Linked DNA regions of Homo sapiens. The protein of the gene in region 2 interacts with the protein of the main gene of each other region in a pairwise test. Each region holds a gene or a part of one and is shown on either strand. Other genes may lie near its edges.

Region 1 (5,931 bases), on a different chromosome or scaffold from region 2:
ACCACGGGGGTTTTCCGGGTTTTCCAGGGGCCAGTCGAACCAGATCTTGTGCAGGGAGCCGAGGAGGGAGTGGTGGGGAAATCGGGCCACAGCCCCTGACGACACCTGCCGCGGAGTCTGGGGGCTGAGGGGGCGGGGGTGCCCACGGAGCCTAGTATGGTGCCTGGCGTATGACCGGCGCTCAATATTTGTTAAATGATTTGTTACATTAATGAACCAGAGAAATCGCGGTGGGAATGGAAAAAAGATTAAGTTGGGAGATACTAGTAGGTTCAGTGACGAGTTGGCCACTGTTTGGACGGAGAAGTAGGAAATTCCGATCTAGGGTGACTCCCAGGTTTCAGATCGGTTTGGACACGCTGAATTTGAGGTGCCGGAGAGGTCGCAAAGGCGGGGCGGCCAATGGGCCGTTGGAAAAAGGGTCTGGAGCCAGAGCACTCCCTGAGACCACAAGGGGGCAGCAAACATTTGGTGGACTACGGTGCCAATCTGTTTCTCAACATGCTTGCCCCAGCGCCCCTACTTCCCAACTTCCCCTCCCCAGGACCAAAACTTCCTGCATCCAAACCTCTTAGGCTGCCCTTCTCGGCTCGTGGCAGCAGGTAGGCTCCCAAGAGAGAAATTTAAAGGCCTTTGCACATGCTGCTCCCTTGGCTCTGAAAGTCCCTGGATATCACTTACCAGGTCCCTTCAGTCCCTTTTTTCTTCTGTGTCCACCTGATAGGACTGCCCTTTTCCTTTACTGTCTATCCTGCTAGCCCGTGCAGGGCAGGGATTAGCCCTATCTACTCCCATCATCTGACATTTGGAGGTCTCTTATTGGTAAATGTGGGATAAATGGATACATAAAGGAATATCCTATTCACATAATCAAATGAGAGCCTTCATTTTGAGAGCTCTACACCTGCCAGAAAGCCAGACCAGGATGAGTTTAGTTCCCAGTCAAACGATTAGGCAGGCTGACACCTCTGCCCCCTACCACCTCCATCCTAGACCAAGAAGCCAGCACACTCCTCCAGTCATCTCTATGGTTTATTGTCACTGAAATAAGAACACTGATTGGGGGGAGGGTGGGTGTTGCAAATTGCAAACCTCAGGTAACCTGACCTCCAACTTTAGAGCCCAGAGTACAGAGAGGTGGGCCTTGAAGCCAATAAATACAAAGCTTCCTCTGCCTTGTAACAAAGGCAGGTTGGCATAGGGCCCTGGAGCCTGACTGCCCAGGCCCACTTTGGGATGGGGAGCAGCTATCACTCCTCTGCTGGCTTCACTTGCGTGGCGGCCTCTAGCTGGCAAAGTAGCTCATCCCACTGCACGAATTGCTTGGAGAGAAGCATTGTCTGGTTGTAGGTCAAGGTGAGAATAGGAATCTGAGTGAGGAAGTTCATGGAAAGTGGGGAACAGGCAAACATAGGTGGGTAGGATAGGATGAGAGAGAGCTAGAGGTGGAACAAAAGGACAGGGCTTAGGGACAGCACCCATTAGGGTCCTAGTTGAGCAGAAAGGATACAGTCTTGTTGTATTCCTCCAGGAGAGCCTTGGACTCCTCAGTGATTTCCACACACTGGTCCTGTAGGGCCAAAGTGTAGCACAGAAAGGAACTGGGCAAAGCCCACATCTTCCACTAAACTTCCTGCCTCATCACGGACTCCCACTCCCCATGGAGCCTAAAAAAGATGACGCTTAACCCCAAAGCCAAAGGAGCAAATGGCTATGGGAGCACTTTCAGGCTCCAGGATGGGTGCCCTAACAGCAGTCCAAAGACGGATGGAAAAGGGAGTGGCCATACATTAAGTAAACATTCCCCCTAGTGTATGTCTCTTCTTCTGTCCTTATTTCTGAACTCTCTTTGAACTTTACACTAGGGCCTGGGAATAGTGAAAAAAGAGCCCCTCTACCCACAGTCAATGACATACCATCCCCAGGAATTCTTGGGTACCTCCCAGCCTCAACCTTATGGTGTCCCAATAAAGTCCTGCTCTGGAAGCAGAAAGTTTGTACATGAACCTAGGCAAGTCCCTTTACCTCCCTGGGGCATATGCAAGATAAAGGATAAACCCCAAAGTTTCTGCTGAGGTTACAACAGAAAGGCCTGAAGCTGCTTCCCCAGGTGGCATGAGTTGGGATGAGGTGCTGCGCCACCTCCATCTTCGCTTCTAGTCATCTCCCCTCCCATACCTGCTGCTGAATGTGGATCTGGGCCAAGCGCTGCAGGCGGGCAGCATGCTCAGGAACGGCTGTAAAACACAACACACACTGCTGGATGATGCTTGTGCCCTCCCCCGGGACTGCTCAATAGTCTATTAGGTCTTTGGCAGGATTAGAGTATTGAGTGGAGAAGCTAAACAAACGCCAGACTTCATCGACTGCTGCAGCTGGAGGTGGCAGTGGGGCTCCCTGCCCACTCCAGTCTTACTCCAGGACCCATAGGGGAGGGGAAGATACATGTCCCGAGGAGAAGACAAAACCTTGGGGTTCCCAGTGTTGCTCCCTACCCCCACCCCAGTGCTATAAGCAGGACCAGGTAAAGAGAGCTTTGGCTATTATAGGACCTGTCCCTTTGCTCTCAGCCCAGCGGGGGCAGGTCTGCCTGGCTTAGGGAACAGGGAGTCTGAAGATGGATGCCAGGTCCCTAAGCTGGAATCCAACACGCCAAGGCTTGGCCACCATGCTGGGCTCAAAGCTTAAGGCTGTCAGATACTCAGCGGGCAGCTGATCAGGGGTAGGGAGGGGGAGCTGGGAAAAATACCTCCACAGACAGACAAGATGGATATCTGGATTCAATTAAAGCCACTATCTGCTTGTCAAAGTCCAGGCCCAGGGACTGCTCTCAGCAGTGCAGCAGAAAGAATTCACATACATTCATGGACCTGGCAGAGACTCTGATAGTAAAATCTGGGTTCTGCAGCACCTTGAAGAAGAGATGCTTGGGGGTAGGTAGAAGGCAGAAGGAATCCCCAGAGCTGGGGACTGCTAGAGCTTAGGCTAGTGTTCTCAGGCCCAAATTGCCTGAGGTCCTAAAACTGGGCTCTCTATCCTGGTAATTTTAATTGGTGGATGTGGCAAGTACCTCAGGGTGAGGATAAAGATAAGGAACAGGCCAGGCACAGTAGCTCACGCCTGTAATCCCAGCACTCTGAGAGGCCGAGGCAGGTGGATCACATGGGGCCAGGAGTTTGAGACCAGCCTGGACAACATGGTGAAACCCCGTCTCTACTAAAAATAGCCAGGTGTGGTGGCACACACCTGTAATCCTAGCTACTTGGGAGGCAAGGTGGGAAGTTTGTTTGAACCAGGAGGCAGCGGTTGCAGTGAGTCAAGATCATGCCACTGCACTCCAGCCTGGGTGACAGAGTACGACTCTGTCCAAAAAAAAAAAAAAAAGATAAGGAACAGACCCAACCCGAATCCACACAACCTGAAACACAGGAAAGTCTTGCCCATCCATCCACCTACCTCCCCAACCAGAGTAGTGAAGCTATAACCCCAGAGAGATACCTTTGATGTGAGCACTGTCCAGCATGGGCACCAAGGCATTCACCTGCTCCAGGAGTGCAACCTGGGAAAGGATAAACTGCTCCTCTAAAGCAAAAATGGACAAGATAGTTGCAGTGAAGCAAACCTGGGCATTGCTAATCAGCCCATGTAAGGGCCTGAGGACCTGGCAAGGGAGATGGCTAGGTCCTAGAGCTTTGGACAGTGACTCTGTCCACTGCCCCCTTCTCTAGGTGCACATTTCCATCCTGCCCCCAACTCTCCTGGATGCCTCAGGTCTGACCCATCTGAGCCTAATGAGCCTCTCAATTTCTCCAAATCCCACCTTTCTCCAAGGTTTAACTTCAAGACCTCTTCTTCTAGCCTCCTATCAACAAACTCAGGGAGCACCTCCTAGGCCACAAAATACAAAATACTTCAGACTTGGATCCCCACACCCAAGGGTCCCCAGGAAGGTCTAAAAGAGATATGTGGCAGACTACGCCAGGCAGGTTCTGCTCAGTGGCTCTCAGAGGCATAGACAATTATATGCTGGAGGAGAGCTGGGACAGTAATGGAAGAGTCCAGTGAGGAGAGCAGGATCTGGGCTAGGCCCTGTATGCACACGGGATTTCAATGCACTGAAATCCATAGAGTGGGAAGGGTATTCAAGAGAGAGGACTGTTACGTGCAAATGCTTAGAGGCAGGAATGCCTGTCAATTAGTAGAGGAGAAAGAATTCAATTAGCTGAACTGGAGTAGGGAGAGCACAGGAAACAGAGTTGGATGGGAGGGTAGACCCGGCCGACTGAAAGGCTTTGAATGGCAGACTATGGAATTAGGACTTTATCCTAGCAAGGCAGGATACACTGAGGTTCCAAAGTAGGCAAAGTGACATGTTGGGAACATGTTTTTGTGAGGGTGAGACTGAACCACATGCAGGAAGGGAAAGATTAGGGTCAAGAGTATGATTTAGGAGACTGTGCAACCATTCATATGCAAGTGGATGCACAATTCCTGAGGCAGTGCCACAGGGAGGGATGGAGAGGCTGGACTCAAGAGTCAGTGCAGGAGAATATCTAAACTTGGTGCTTGAGCGATGGCAATTGACCAAGAGCCCTTTGGGAACTCTGACAGCCCTTTTAGCAGGAGTGGCCCATCCTTACCCAGTCCTCAGTGCTGCATTGCACTGATCAGTCTCCTGGGAGACTGATCTCCCATCTGGGTTATAAGCTCAGGTCCCTGAAGCAGGGACCCTGTCTCCCCTAGCTCTGGCTGTGCCCATGAGGGCAGGGACTTTCTGGTTCACCACTGTATGCTTCCTCACTTAGGAAAGAACCTGGATCAGAGTAGATGATCATTATACATCTTTTGGATGAATAACGAAGCTCAAAAAACCCTAGCTTATAGAATGGCTGACTGATTAGCAGACATTGCCAAGGCAATAGTTCCTGCCTAGAACTCTGACACTGCAGAGCTTTCTCACATGAAAGAAAGATGTTGAAACTCATGCCAATACTCTCTCTGTTCTTTAATGGCAATGCTCTCTGCCCCTACCCTTTCCTAGAAGCTCCTCTGTCTAGTGAGCAGAAGTGAGGAAGGTTCTGAAGGAAAATCCAAGAGGCAAACTATTGATAGAACACTGGACTAGCTCCCACTGTGGCTGGCACCATGGCCTGCAGCTGGTGCAGAGGTATACTGTACTCAATGTCTACTAGAGGATCCATAGGATCCTCAACCCAGAACCAGGCCACAATTCCAGAGAGCAGCATCCAGGGCTTGTATCCACCAGAAGACTGGATGGAGAGGCCATCTCTGTGCTTAACCTCCCCGACGACCCACATCCTCAGATGCATGTACACATGTAGTCCAGCATTACCTGCTAGGATGAATTGCAGCTTAGAGGCATCAGGTATGGCAATGCGGTCGATGTACTCAGGATCCAGGTACTTGATCAGATCTTCAACTAGAAAAGTAGCAAGATGGAAAATGGAATAGGGTTGGGCAGTAGAGCTCTGCCTTATGAAGGATGTTTGACAAGTGGTCAGCCTTGAGGAGAGCCTTCAATGAGGAGCTGATACCCAACAGTGCCACATGAGCAGGGCTCCACCAGGCTCCCTATCCCCACTTCCCTATCTCTCCACTCTCTTCTCTTGAAGTCTCTTCTGACATCAAGCTTCAGAGCTGAAAACACAATTGCCACCACCACTCTGGGCCCTTAGCATTCTCACTGACCTATCCTCACCAAGGGTAGAAGGCCTCTTTTCTCCTAGATGTCACCGAGACAAGCCAGAGCTTTGTCTAATTTCTAGTTACTAAGCAGGTTACTAGTTCTGACATAACCAGGATCTCAGTGTCTAATTTGTTTCCTGCCCCTTAACCTTGCCTGGGAAATCCCATACCCTTTTTACCCTCCTTCACCAAGAGAAGCTTTCAGGTAGAGCTCTTATTTCATAA
Region 2 (9,092 bases):
GCGAAAACACTGTAAGGTTGTTTAGGTTAATAAATTATAATTTCTGCCATCTGATGAGAAAGCCCTTATGTGGACTTCAAAGTTTCAGGGAAGAGTGAAGGCAGTCAATTTCCCCAAAGCCTGGCAAAAGTCACAGACAAAATTAAAGCCTATGAGCAAAAGGCTCCTCAAGAATACTCCAGATTAAGCTAACATTGTCAACCACCACAGAGGGCAAAGACAAAATCTATATTGTCTACCTTTGTATTCCTCGAGCCCAGCACATAGTAGGCACTCATTTAGAGAATGAACACACATCTCCATATGTCCACAAGCTCAAAATGTATAAGTGAAAACCTATGAATTTCTCAAAATAATAATCTATAGATAAGAAAGTTAAACACACACACACACACAAACCCTTGACAGGAGATTTTGCTTCAAGTTTAGGTATTTATCATAGAATATATTCACTTACAACATAACTTTTTATATAACTGACATTTCTCAAGTTCTATTTAATAGAATGGAAATTCACTATGTTTAAAGAACACTTAACCAAATCTACACTTATCTACTTTAGGATTAATACTGGCTCTAAAAAGTAAACTAGTACTATGGTTGGTTTGATTAACTGGTTAGGTAATCATGAGAGCTGATGGTCATAATTATGGGATTGAATCCTTTTAAGAAGAAATATCAATCCTCAAAGGAATCAATCCCATAATGACTTTTTCCCTCCATAACTTAACAATGCAATCCTACACTCCAGCCAGCTAGAGAGCTACCAGACAGTGCTCGTGCGAGCCACTATTCACATGGGTCCAGCCACGGGATATGGAGGATTTGGCATAAATCTATCATCAACCCTTTACTTATGGCAAGTCAATTCTGTCATCTCCAAATGTGAAGAACAATTTTTTAAACTGCCAATAGTGAAAACCAGAGAATGCTTCCCTAGTATAGGTAGCTTGAATGCAATCTAAATATGTATTAATTTTTTTGTGTGTATTATAATGTACTACTGGACTATATGGAACTCTCAGAAAGACACATGCTATTGAATAGTAAGCATTACTAAGAAATTTATGAATGATTAAAATAAAAAAATCAATATCGATTAAGACTATTTTTCCATGTCAAGCTTCAAACCTGACAAAAGGGATGGCAGGATTAAGATAACTATTAACCTCCGAAAGACACAGGACCAAATAAAACACTGTAGAATGACCACAAAAAATGTTTCTCTAATTAGAAGTGTAACTAAACCAAGAAATAAAACAATCTGCTTTCCATGTCACCAATTATTTTCATCTGTTCAACTTCCCAGTTGCTCCTTAATGTGCAATCCACATCTCAAAACATCTTTTTCCTGCTCTTGCTGTTCTGTTCACCTTGGAAAGGTACAATTCTAGCATGTATCATCTTCAAAATTTGGTTTAGAGGGCTTGTATTCTGTTTACAGTCAACATACATACAAACAAGCCTATTGATCTTCAACATACCTTCAGTCAATAAAAGCATACTTCATCCTGAATGTGGGTACTTTGTAATCACTATGTATGAGGAAAATGAGAATGCACCACCTATCAGTATCATATATGAAAAATTCAAAGAATGGATGGATGATCTCTGACTTTAAAACAATAAATGGTACAGTCATGATTTCAGAATCTAATGTTATTCTTAAATGTAATTCACTAGTGAAACACCATGTTCTAAAGGGCATTTATAGCATTACAGCAAATAACATTAAGTAGATTCACAATATTCAATATCTAATTGATGTATAATTATTGCTAAGACTACCCTGCCTTTTTTATCAGGTATGTTTATAATCGTGTCCATCACAATTTTAGATTGTATTGGAACAGCTACTCATAGAAATTTCTTCAGTGCTCACACAAATGGAAGACTTATAAAAACGCACATAAATGTTCTGCATTGGAACAGTAAGAAGCTATAACTTGAATGCGTTCAGACCTGTAGCAGGCTGTTGCTGCTGTGTAAGTGTTGCAGCCATGGCAACGGCTGCTGCGTTTGGCATGGTGCTGAAAGGAGTGGGTCCAGTAGTAACTCTGGGTGTGTTCTGCCACTTCTTGGCTTCTGCTCGCCTTGTTTCAAACACATCAACAGCATCTCCCAAGAACATTTTCCTGTAGCCAAGGTACTGTTCTTTCAGAACCTAAAAGAATAATAAACAAAACGGCTAAATGAAGTTTCACATTGACTATGGTTAATATGTGGATGAATATAACCATAAATTACCAAAGACAGTCCCAATATTATACATTCAATCCAAACTGCAAATTAGAGTGCTAATAATGCACTTTGGTGTAGGAAATGATGAGTTCAAGAGTTCTACTGCTCCCTTGAATAGTTTACTCCCTATCTTTACAATATGCTTCCTAAAATACTGTCTTTGTGAGGCCTTGTTTAAAATAAATCAGCTAAGCTTTTAGACAGAGTAATATTTAAATACTCCATCAATGTGCAGATGGATGGATGAAAAGAATTTAAAAATAAATATTCCAGTTTTTCAAGAAACTTTCCCCTCAAATGTCCAACCTTTTCATAGCCTTTTGATTAAAACAGTTTAAAAAAAAAAGAAAGAAAAAAAAGTCAGCACTAAATATACATACTTTTAAATACATTTTTTAGAAGGCCTGGGTAACACATGCTAAAATAAGGTGTTGCACCTCAGCAGTGGTTGGAGGGTATGATGAGGGCTTCTACTTTATTGCTATTATTTGACCATTGTACAATGAGACTTGATTCATGTTAAAGTTATGAACCCAACCACCCGCCTCAAAGAAAAAAAGTGTTTGTAACTCCAGAGTAAGAAAAATTCCCAAGTTCATAAAGTGAGCTGCTTTTACCCAATGCAGCATCTGCTTTGATTAAGGCCATCAACAGCAACAATTCTGTTTCACTTTAGAATTATTTTATGCTTTCATTGAAGATTTAGCCTAATTTAGATAGGTTTTTAACCACTTTTTGAAGAGACACAGATTTTTCATATTTCTTACATTTCTTAGCAGAAATTAGTAAACATTAGGTTCTGATTATAACAAATACAGCACTTAAAAATCTTACTGTTGTTTATAGTATTTAAAAGCTATCATCGCCCTTTTTGTGTGGATGTCAGTGTTTGATGTTCCAATTCCAAACTTTGCTACATTTATGATGTATTAAAAAAGGGGGCCTGCCAAGAACTGGATACTGGGGAAGATACAAAGCCAGAATCAAGACATATGATGTAAGAAAAACAAGCACTACCGATCTCTTGCAAATCCACCCTTCCTTGTCCTGGGCAAGCATCAGTATCCCATAAATTTTAGTTCTACTTCAGATAATGGAAAATAATGATCCACCTTAGAAACTTAAGACCAAGACCATTAGTTAAAAGAAACAGCCTGGCCGCGGTGGCTCCCACCTATAATCCCAGCCCTTAGGGAGGTCTAGGCAGGAGGACTCCTTGAGGCCAGGAGTTAAGATCAGCCTGGACAACACAGCAAGTGCCCCTCTCTACAAAAAGTTAAAAAATTAGCTAGGTGTGGTGGTGCATGCCTGTAGTCCTAGCTACTCAAGAGGCTGAGCCTGAGGCGGGAGGATCGCTTGGGCCCAGGAGATTGAGGCTGCAATGAGTCATGATTACGCCACTGCACTCTAGCATAGGCAACAGAGCAAGCCCTTCTCAACAAAACAAAACAAAATAATAAAACAAACAAACAAAAACCTTGACATCAGCCATGATTTATAAAACAAATTGCTAAAACTTCCAAATGTGTTAATGTTCCTGAGGCCTGGCTGGATAGAATAGTTAACGCCTGTTTCAACAGATTACCTAATGAAAAACAAAACGAACAAAAAAATGTCTTGTGAGATTTCTACAAGAAATAAAGAAACCTAGAGCTTAGTTTGCTCACTAAACTAAGCTAAAAATAATGGCAACATACCAAATCTGATTATAAAATATTCTTTGGTTCTTGGGAATATCCTTTCGTTCCTGGGTTGCTTAAAGAGTAGGTCAAAATTTCATGTCTACAACGTTTATTTGACGTGATCTAGGGCAGTTTTATGTGGTCTTGGTCTCACTGTTTTATGGTCATATTACCAAAAATGATATATTTTCCAAACCAGAGAGGAGACAGTGCTGCTAAAAAAAATGTACGTTTACACCTGGCATTTGCTCTGAAATACTTCGTGGGGGGAAAAAAAGCATCTTCTGTGGAGCATTGATAAAACAAGTTCAGCAGGGTTTTGATAATGGTTGCAATTAGGTAGTCATACCTGGGCATTCAGTATAATGATAGCCTACTTTTGTGTATATTTGAAAGATTTCATAATAAAAATTAAGGAAAAGAATTCTGTGCAACGGACTTCAAAGTGCCATACATTAATTTTATTAAAAAATTAAAGTAACATTTATTATAGACTAATAGAATTTTTTTAAATCTGATAAAATTCCTCCTTTAGAACAAAATTTAAAGATTTGGGTTACAGTTTTAAATCTACTAAAGCAAAAGGTCTAAAGTGCACTACCATTTCAAAAATGGTGTAATTTAAATGGTTTACTTAAAAAAATCCTGTTACTATGCATGAAATCAAAATAAAAATGAAAATGTTGATAATTCCAATTAAACTCTATTCTACACAGTTGATAATTTATCTAGACTCAGGTTTCGCTGCTTGAATTTTAAAGGTATTTTGGACCACATACACTCCAAGATTAAAGAGTTTAATTACATTTGCTCAGTTAGTTAGAAAAGATGTACTTACCTTGAACATTTCACTTAAATACATTTTTAAAACTAACGTTATTATGAGAGTCAAAATATTCAGGCTGGGTGCAGTGGCTCATGCCCATAAATCCTAGCACTTTGGGAGGCCGAGGAGGGAGGATTGCCTGAATTTAGTAGTTCGAGACCAGCCTGTGCAACATGGCAAAACCCTGTCTCTACTAAAAATACAAAAAATTAGCCAGGCATGGTGGCACGTGCCTGTAGTCCCAGCTATTCAGGAGGCTGAGGCATGAGAATCACTTGAACCCAGGAGGTGGAGGTTGCAGTGAACCAAGATCATGCCACTGAACTCCAGCCTGGGCGACAGAGCAAGAGTCTGTCTCAAAAAAAAAAAAAAAAAAGCGAGAGTCAGTCTAAATATTCAGTGATAAATCATTTTATTTACACTATTTAATAAACACAAACAGTTCCCTGTATTTAAAAGGGAGAAATGCTGTAAGCCGGTTTTTAATGCAGTGGCCAATAAACACTTAAAACAGATAAAATTAAGGTAGTACAAAATCATTTGCTACTAAGAATGCTTATTTTCTTTTTTTTTGAGATGGAATCTTGCTCTGTTGCCCAGGCTGGAGTGCAGTGGTGTGATCTCGGCTCACTGCAACCTCCACCTCCTGGGTTCAAGCGATTCTCCTGCCTCAGCCTCCCAGGTAGCTGGGACTACAAGTGCCCGCCACCATACCCGGCTAATTTTTGTAATTTTAGTAGAGACGGGGTTTCACCATATTGGCCAGGCTGGTCTTGAACTCCTGACTTTGTGATTCGCCCGCCTCGGCCTCCCAAAGTGCTGGGATTACAGGTGTAAGCCACTGTGCCTGACTAAGAATGCCTATTTTCTATAGTGCTATTTATAGTAGTAAAGAAATAGAAACCACCTAAATATCCAACAGAAAATGGGTTAAACAATGTACAACCATACAACAAACTCCTATGTTAACTATTAAAAATGATATTCAGGAAATATGTGTATTAACATAGAAAGTTATTCACAATGCACTGCTTAAAAAAAAGTTATAATAACAGACTACAGCGTACTTGGATCTTTTTTAAAAGAACAGGTATTATCAATCGTTATGTCTGGGTATGTTATGGATTATAGTAGTTTTCATCTTTTCACTTATATGTAATTTTAGCTATTTCTGTATCAAGCATGGACACATTTGTCCCCAGATGAACAAATACTTGGGTCTACATATCCAGGTAGATAAATGGGTAATGAAAACTTACCTTTACATTTTCATGAATAGACTGAAGTTGTGCCGCTAAAGCTACAAATGTTTGATAAATTTTCTGCATAGCCATTGACAAATCTATAAAAGAAAATTACATTATCACCCAAATATATACATATATATAGCACAATCCATTTTATTTTTCTATTTGAGTCCAATTTTTGGCACAGTTAACGTGTAGGAGAAAAAAACTCTATCAACGTTCTCATGGCCAGAGAACACACAGAGTAGCAGACTGAATGTCTACAAAAGAAATCTGGGGGGAAGGCCCTAAGATTTCTGTCCTTGTTACCACAGTAACAATTCATATAATAAAGCATATTATATTTATAGGGAATAAAGGAGTAGTAAATGACTTTTAAGGAAATTTTCTTAAAGGGGCTACCAGTAGTTATCCAAAATACCTATTATATAACCACATCTATCTCCTACAAACAAAAGTTCAAAAAAAATTACCACAGTAAGCATGTTACCTTGAGGGGTTATATGTGAATTATTTGCTTGAGTGGCAAGATGGTTTTCTAGTTCTTCAATCTGCTGCCTGTACTGCTGAAGCTGTACCTCAAATTGCTGAACCAAGATTCTGAAGTAGCTTTAAAAAACATTTAAAAAGTCAGATCAAATATTTTTTTAATTTGGAGTGACAAATCCAAATTAAGGAATATTCTGCAATCATTTAATAGTCTTCAAAAGTATCAAGGTTATCCAAGGAAAGGAAGGACTGAATAACTGTGACTGGAAGATATTAAGGAGAAATTACAAATGCACTGTGAATCCCAAATAGGATGCTGAAACAGAAGTACACTAGTGGAAAAACTGGTTGAATTTCAGTAAGTTTAGTAGTTTAGTTAATAATATTGTAACAATTTTAGTTTCCTGTTCTTGGTAATTATACTATAGTTATAAGTTAACATTAGGGGAAGCAAGGGAAGCGATATAAATAAATTCTCTGTACTACTATTTTGGAAGTTTTCTGTAAGGTTAAAATAAATTTAAAATAAAGTAGAAACGTCTACCAACCAGATTTCAGAATTAAGAATTTATAGTCATTTTATCAATGAAATTTATAATCTGAGAACACCATAGTATACTACAGAAAGCACATGTAATTATTGCTACTTTTCTAATAAATTTACCCACAGAGAGTGCTAGACAGATAAAAAAAAAAAAAGAAGGTATCTTGAATAGTATACAGAGGAATCTGAATGTCTTTCAGTAAACAATGGGCAACCATGAATGCATTTTGCAAAATTAGCTCTGATGGCAGTATTAAGTACAAGACAGAGGGATAAAATAGTAGAGGAAGTCCAGTGAGGAAGCACATCTCATGCCAACCTGAGTAAGACGAATATCATGGGCATTATGAATTTCCTGATTTTGAGAACTGTTAAGTATGAGAATATCCTTATTTTTAAGAAATATCCACTGAAGTACTTTAGCATAGTGAACATTATTTCTGCAAATAACCCAAACTGTTTGGGGGAGAAATGTATATACACACATAGAATGTGAGGAACAAAAATATGGTAAAAATGTTAATATGTAGGAAATTGGAATGAAAGGCATACAGGAATTTTTAGTTCTCATCTTGAAACTTTTCTGTAGACCAAAATTATAATAAAAAACTAAAAGAATAAAATAAGTAAGGGGCCAGGCGTGGTGGCTCACATCTGTAATCCCAGCACTTTAGGAGTCTGAGGCGGGAGAATCACTTTAGCCTAGGACCAGCCTAGGCAACACTGTGAAATGGCATCTCTACAAGTTAATTAATTAATTGTGAGGGACCAGGAATCAAACAGACCTCCACCACTCAACTCACTTTTGCATACCTCAGTCTCTTTATCGCTAAAACTGGAATAACAACAGCTACAGAGATCTTGTGAAATATGAAGGTAAAGCATGTATAGTCCTAAGCACACTGCATGGGAAATAGTAAGCATTTGGTAAACATCAGTTATTATTATCTTCATCAACATGGAAGGACATAAACAGGCAAGATATATTTTACATGTATGAAAGCCAAATGTATATATACAAGCTGAGTGATGTGATTACAGGTTGGTTTTTTCTTCTACTTATGTATATTTTCTAATTTTTCTTCCAGAACACGTATTACCTATTTAAATGAATAATGGTAATTTTCCATTACCAGTAAAATTTAATAAAATGGAGTAGACTCTGTAAGTAATATGTACATGAAGTATAAATGCGTAATAGTGGTGAAAAGCTCAGATCTTAGCCTTCACTTACCCTGCAGTCAAATGGTGTTAATGGAGATAAACCTTTTTAGGGTTATTATGAAATTTAAAATCCATGTAAAGTGCTTATTGGCTCAGCCTTTCCACATAGTATACTAAAAATATTTAGTTTGTATACTATTATTACTGTTCTGCTTTCTGAAAGTGAGAAACATTTGTTTTTAAAAATCCAGCAACTTACTCAGCAGGAGCTGCATATTCATGTTGAAGTCCAGGTGGTGTCTTCTGGGTTCTTAAAGCTATTTCAGCATTCTTCAACTCCTAATATACCAGAGGATTTAAAAAAAAAAAAAAAAGCCAGTTAAGAGTTATGTTAAAAATACCGTACGAAAAAAAATATTCAGTCTCTGGACTGAAACTTCAAACAATACCTTGGAGGTTCATGCTATAAGAACATATTATGGATGAAGCTGCTTCACAAGTTGCTAAAACCTTTCAAGAGCAGACAAATTACAGTTTTAACAAACTTATAAAGAGCTGTAGATCTATTTTTAAAACTATAGATTTCTGTAGGATTCACGAAGTGAATTCATTTACAGCGTAAAGATTATACTACTACTTAAAATCATTAATATAAACGCAGAAAATACTTTTTTTTTTTAAAAGGCAGGTGGCAATAATAATGTTGAGGCTGAGGCAGGCACAATTAACATTTGGGTGCTTGCTATGTACCAAACACTATGCTAAAAGTTACTTCTCAAGGACAACATTACAATGTAGGGAATGTTTCTCTTTTTATAGATGAAGAAATGGATTTACAAAGCCATTAAGTAACTTGCCCAATATCATGCTGCTAGAAGACCGAAGAACTGGATCTTTTA

What was found. The genes of interacting proteins can lie anywhere in the genome.
Region 1: the proteins of NUP58 (region 2) and DCTN3 interact in binary tests that used the Homo sapiens proteins (3 or more experiments, as listed by UniProt).

What each region holds. Positions count from the first base shown.
Region 1 is NC_000009.12:34,612,532-34,618,462, forward strand, and holds the end of DCTN3 (dynactin subunit 3), read right to left. Parts: intron 5,441-5,931; coding exon 5,354-5,440; intron 3,583-5,353; coding exon 3,499-3,582; intron 2,238-3,498; coding exon 2,179-2,237; intron 1,668-2,178; coding exon of another isoform or gene 1,571-1,667; coding exon 1,511-1,570; intron 1,371-1,510; coding exon of another isoform or gene 1,341-1,370; coding exon 1,251-1,340; 3' UTR 1,015-1,250; downstream 1-1,014. UniProt on the Homo sapiens protein: Part of the dynactin complex that activates the molecular motor dynein for ultra-processive transport along microtubules. Together with dynein may be involved in spindle assembly and cytokinesis.
Region 2 is NC_000013.11:25,324,429-25,333,520, reverse strand, and holds part of NUP58 (nucleoporin p58/p45), read right to left. Parts: intron 8,533-9,092; coding exon 8,453-8,532; intron 6,606-8,452; coding exon 6,487-6,605; intron 6,092-6,486; coding exon 6,009-6,091; intron 2,165-6,008; coding exon 1,963-2,164; intron 1-1,962. UniProt on the Homo sapiens protein: Component of the nuclear pore complex, a complex required for the trafficking across the nuclear membrane.